Linked DNA regions of Homo sapiens: region 1 is linked to region 2. A link means that fine-mapping ties the variant in region 2 to the expression of a gene that starts in the linked region. Tissue or cell type: whole blood. Region 2 holds a variant in brackets; the other region holds the start of a gene. All regions are shown on one strand. Distances are from middle to middle.

Region 1 (2,624 bases), 400 kb before region 2:
GGTCAGGAGTTTGAGACCAGTCTGGCCAACATGGTGAAACCCTGTCTCTACTAAAAATACAAAAATTAGCCAGGCGTGGTGGTGGGCACCTGTAATCCCAACTACTCTGGAGGCTGAGGCAGGAGAACCAGTTGAACCTGGAAGGCGGAGGTTGCAGTGAGCTGAGATCGTGCCACTGCACTCTGGCCTGGGCAACAGATCAAGACTCTGTCTCAAAAAACAAAAAAATAACAAAAAAGAGAAAGGTCTTGGCACATAGGACTAAATGTTCCATACAAGCTTCAATTTCCTAAATGTAGTTCCTCCCTGGCCTTCCTATGGGATTAGGGGACCCAGTGGACTTGTGTGTCTGAGCAGGCATTTGTCCAGCCTCCTTGGGGACAGATGGGAGGACTCTATTGGCCCCTGTCATGGTGTCACCCTACTGGAGAGGATAAGACTCTAACTGACACTACAGGCAGCTGGGGAGAGAGAGAGCTTTAGTTTCCAGGCCTCCCTCTTGGGAGGGCCACTCTCTGATAGCTGGGCTAGTCAGGGAAGGCTTCCTGGAGGAGTGGGCCTCGGACCTGAGAGAGCGCTGGGCTGCCTGGCCATGGCAGGGGAGCAGAAAGAGGACTCCTGGCTAAGGCTGAGGGCCTGGCTGGGGACACAGGCGGGGACAGTAAAGGGCTGGGGCCCAGGGCGGGTCCAAGGGAACTGTCTTCCCAGGGATCAGAGGGGTAGATCCAGGCTCAAAGACCAGGGACCAGGTGCCCAAGACCCTGCCCCGTTAGTCCTCACTGGAGCTGGTTGGCCCTGGGACTGCAAGGGTGGCCGTGCTGTCCCTCCCGTATTCCCCCCACGGGATGCCCTCCACCAGCTACTCACATAGTGCTGGCTGGGTACGAAGCGCTTCTCAAAGCCCAGCAGGGCGATGTGACGGATGAAGGTGTCCCCCATGACTGGGTGGCCTCCAGTGCTCCCTGGCACTTCCAGGCTGCGCCTTAAATGCACTGGAAAGAGGAAGTCGCTTTTGTCGCGGTCGGGACAGGGGGCAGGGAGGGTACAGAAAGGGCTTTGCTTCTTCTTTCAGTTTCTGGGGACTCTTCAGGCTTGCAGGGTGTAAACATGGGCAGACTCATGTTCACACACACCTGCAGGGACAAGGAAAAGGGTTTACACTTGTCCTTCCCGTCGCCTGCACGGGCCCCACGGGTTTTGGGGGTGAATCAAGCTGCTCCTGCCTCAGGGCCTTTGCATTTGCTGCGTCCCCTTGACCATCTTTCCCCCCTTGACCATATTCCTGGTCTTGACCATGTTCCCCCCATTCACCATCTTCCCTCCATAACTCTCCTCCATTTCTCTGCTCAAATGTCACCTCTTCCGAGAAGCCTTCCTTGATAACTTCACATTGCATAGCAAACCTCATACCTTTCTCAGCCTCTTCCTGCCTCCTTTTTCTGCAGAGCACTTATCACTGATGCATCGCAAATTGCATTTAATTTTTCTTTATTATTATTGCTATTGTTATTTGAGACAGGGTCTTGCTTTGTTATCCAGGCTTAAGTGCAGTGGTGGGATCACAGTTCACTGCAGCCTCCAACTCCTGGGCTCCAGCGATCCTCCTGCCTCAGCCTCTGGAGTAGCTGGGACTACGGGTGTGTGCCACCATGCCCGGTTAAATTTTTTTTAATTTTTTTGTACAGACAGGGTCCTGCTATGTTGCCCAGGATGGTCTCAAACTACTGGCCTCTAGTGATCCTCCTGCCTCTGCCTCCCACTTTTTTTTTTTTGAGATGGAGTCTCGCTCTTGTTTCCCAGGCTGGAGTGCAATGGCGCGATCTCGGCTCACCGCAACCTCTGCCTCCTGGGTTCAAGCAATTCTCTTGCGTTAGTCTCCTGAGTAGCTGGGATTACAGGCATGTGCCACCACACCTGGTTAATTTTTTTTTTTTTTAATTAGAGACTGGGTTTCTCCATGTTGGCCAGGCTGGTCTTGAACTCCTGACCTCAGGTAATTCACTCGCCTCGGCCTCCCAAAGTGCTGGGATTCAGGCATGAGCCACCGTGCCTGGCCTGACTTAATTTTTTTAGTCTCCCCTTACCACAATGTGTGTCCCAGGAAAGCTAGGGCATGACCGGGTTATCAGGGGCTCTAGCCCCAGCCCCTCCATCTAGTGCCTGGCACACAGAGGCCATAAATATTTGGATCGTGACTGCAACATTCACTGAGTGAATGAATGAGTGAGTGAATGAATGAATGAGTCAATGAATGAGTGAATGAATGAATGAATGAGTGAATGAACGCGGGCATGGGAGTGTGCATGCAAGCGTTAGATGCTCATCCTTGGGTGTGTGTGGATGAGGGCCAGTGACAGCTGGGACGAAAATGGCACAGACTTTGAGTGAGACTTGAGTTCCAATCCTCAAGTAAGCAAATGGTTCATTGAATTGTTCCTTAGGGCTGACTCAGTTTTCTCCAGAGTGATATTAAGACTGTCAGCTTTGCCAGGAAGGGGATTTGGGACAAAGAGGTGAGGAGGGGGCAGCATGCCCAGGGACAGGCTGAGGCCTCTCTCTCCCACTCCCCCTAGAGCCTGGGAGGCCCAGAGCTTTTGGAGCTCATTCAAGGTCATGAGTTCATG
Region 2 (2,500 bases):
AGTGCAGTGGCACGATCTCAGCTCACTGCAACCTCCACCTCCCAGGTTCAAGCGATTCTCCTGCCTCAGCCTCCCAAGTAGCTGGGATCACAGGCATGAGCCACCACGCCCAGCTAATTTTTATATTTTTAGTAGAGATGGGGTTTCACCATGTTGGCCAGGCTGGTCTCGAACTCCTGACCTCAGGCGATCCACCCTCCTTAGCCTCCCAAAGTGCTGGGATTACAGGCGTGAGCCACCGCACCCGGCCACATAAGCACATTTCTAAATCTTGACTTCCCTCCTCCAAGGGGATGCAAAAATAAAAAATAAAAATAAAAAAGATGATAGCAGCTAAAGAAAGAGAGTCAATAATGAAACAGAGAAGCCAGAGGGGGCATCAAAGGGCAAGGTGGCTGGCGGGCCAGGCGGGTGCGGTGGCGCGGTTACCCTGTTGTCCGCTAATTCTCGGAGCAGCCGCTCGGCCTGCGCCTTCTCCAGTAGCAGGCTCTGTTCCAGCTCCCCAATGCGCGCGTGCTCCAGCTGCGTCTGGGTCTGGTCCACCCAGGGTGGACACGGTGGGGGGGTGGGGGCGGGGACGCAGGGAGGGGGGCACAGGGAAGAAGAAGCCGGAGAGAGAGAGAAAGAGAGAGAGAGAGAGAGGAGGCGTCATCTTCCGTGAACAAGGCGAGGAGAGTAGATTCATGAGCCAGAATTGCTCAGCGAAAGAGAGGAAGTCTGGGGAGGCGAGGGGTGTGGGGCCTCATGCCCACCCCTTGCTGTGTCCCGGCTGGGTCAGTGTAGGGCGGTGGGGGGTGGGGGCCTGCAAGCCATCCTCCCTCGCTGGCCCCTGCTTGGGGTAGCAATGGGCACCTCGCTTTTCTGTCCCCCCCAACCCCCAACCAGCAGCCCTTGACCTTGAAGGTCCTCATCAAGGATCTGCTCCTGGGGAGGGGCCCATCCTGTTCCCGTTCCCCTGCAGGCTGTCACTGGTTGTAGGCAAAGCATCCTCCACACAGGAGACCCACAGGATGAGGAATAAATAAAGGACCCCGGGATTCCCGCTCGACTCCCCCCCCCCCCCAAGGCCTGTGCTAAAAGTGCAAGAACCCATAACACG[C/A]AAGATGTTTCCAAAATATACCCGACCCCTCACGATCCTCTTGGCCCCAGCCTCCTTGGTGGAGGCCGGGCTGTGCCTCCCACTCCCGGGCCCCATTGCTGCCCACCCCACCGGACCCCACAGAGGACGCCTGGTCTCCACAAATCACAAGGGCACTTTTGTCCCAGCTCGACAATATCTGCTTCATCTGCTGACAAAGGCCAGCATTCTCAGGGTGTCAAGACTGGCTTTTGCATTTCACAGAACAGATCTTGGAAGGGAAGCTGGGAGGGTGAGGACATTGGGAGCAGTTTGGAGACCCAAGTTCATCTTAGGGAGAAGCCAGAGGGTCCTCTTTATACTCCAGGAGAGAAGGGGTTAAAGCAGCTGCAGGGCAGTTCTGAAGGGGCGGGGCTTAGCAAAACAGCCTCTAGGTGTGAAACCTGTAATAAAACCCCGGAAGCTTGTCTATTGGTGAAGGTGTAAACGGACATCACCTGATTAGAAATACTCCTGCAATTCATTAAGAGACATTGAGATGATTATGTCCTTTGGCCTATTTTATTTCTTGAATTTTCCTTAAGGAACAACAAAAAAAGTTCTCTCTCTCCCCTCCTCTCTCCTTCTCCTCCCTCTCCCTCTTTGTCCTTCCCTTTCTCTCTCCCCTCTCCTTCCCACTTTCTCTCTCTTCTTTCTCCCCCCCGTCTCTCTCCCTCCTTTCTTTTTCCCTCTCTCCCTCCCTCTCTCTCTCCATTCCCCTCCCTGTTTCCCTCCCTCCCTCCTTCTCTCCTTCTCTTTTCCCCTCTCTCCCTTCCTGTCTCCCCTCTTTGTGTCCCTCCCTCTCTCTTTCTCTCCTCTCCCTCCCTCCCCCGCCTCCCTCCTGGCAGTGTGTTCCAGTGCCAACAAGAAGTCAGCATGTCTCTTCCAGAAAATCACAAGCTCCATCCCAGCCACCCCTATCCCCGTCGGTGGGCACAACAGCCCTGTCTGGAACCCTCATAGATGGTGCATGATCCTACACACTGAACTGGTAGCCCGCACAGGCAAGAAAAAGCCTCCAGCTTCGCAATTTCAAGGGCAACTTCATTCGGTCCCACTCCAAAGGACTCCTCCCCTCAACCTTTTTTTTTTTTTTTTTTTTTTTGAGGCATAGTTTCCCTCTTTCACCCAGGCTGGAGCGCAGTGGCGCGATCTCGGCTCACTGCAACCTCCACCTCCCAGGTTCAAGCAATTCTCCAGCCTCAGCCTCCCGAGTAACTGGGATTACAGGTGCCTACCATCATGCCCAGCTAACTTTTGTATTTTTGAGTAGAGACGGGGTTTCACCATGTTTGCTGGTCTTGAACCTCTGACCTCAGGTGATCTGCCCACCTCAGCCTCCCAAAGTGCTGGGATTACATGTGTGAGCCACCACGCCTGGCC

Evidence for each region. PIP is the estimated chance that this variant, and not a neighbour inherited with it, causes the effect.
Region 1: it holds the start of NCF1, and the variant in region 2 is fine-mapped to the expression of NCF1 in whole blood (TOPMed, PIP 0.96).

The regions. Positions count from the first base shown.
Region 1 is chr7:74,772,347-74,774,970 of GRCh38, reverse strand. NCF1 (neutrophil cytosolic factor 1) reads right to left here and starts at 960. Exons shown (of 11, transcript NM_000265.7): 1 at 868-960. The coding sequence starts at 939. RefSeq lists an enhancer at 2,134-2,624.
Region 2 is chr7:74,370,966-74,373,465 of GRCh38, reverse strand. CLIP2 (CAP-Gly domain containing linker protein 2) reads right to left here. Exons shown (of 17, transcript NM_003388.5): 9 at 430-534. Among named protein-coding and RNA genes, the nearest start is that of GTF2IRD1, 82 kb to the left of the region's middle. RefSeq lists an enhancer at 315-1,313. The variant C/A (reference allele first, on the strand shown) is at 1,100.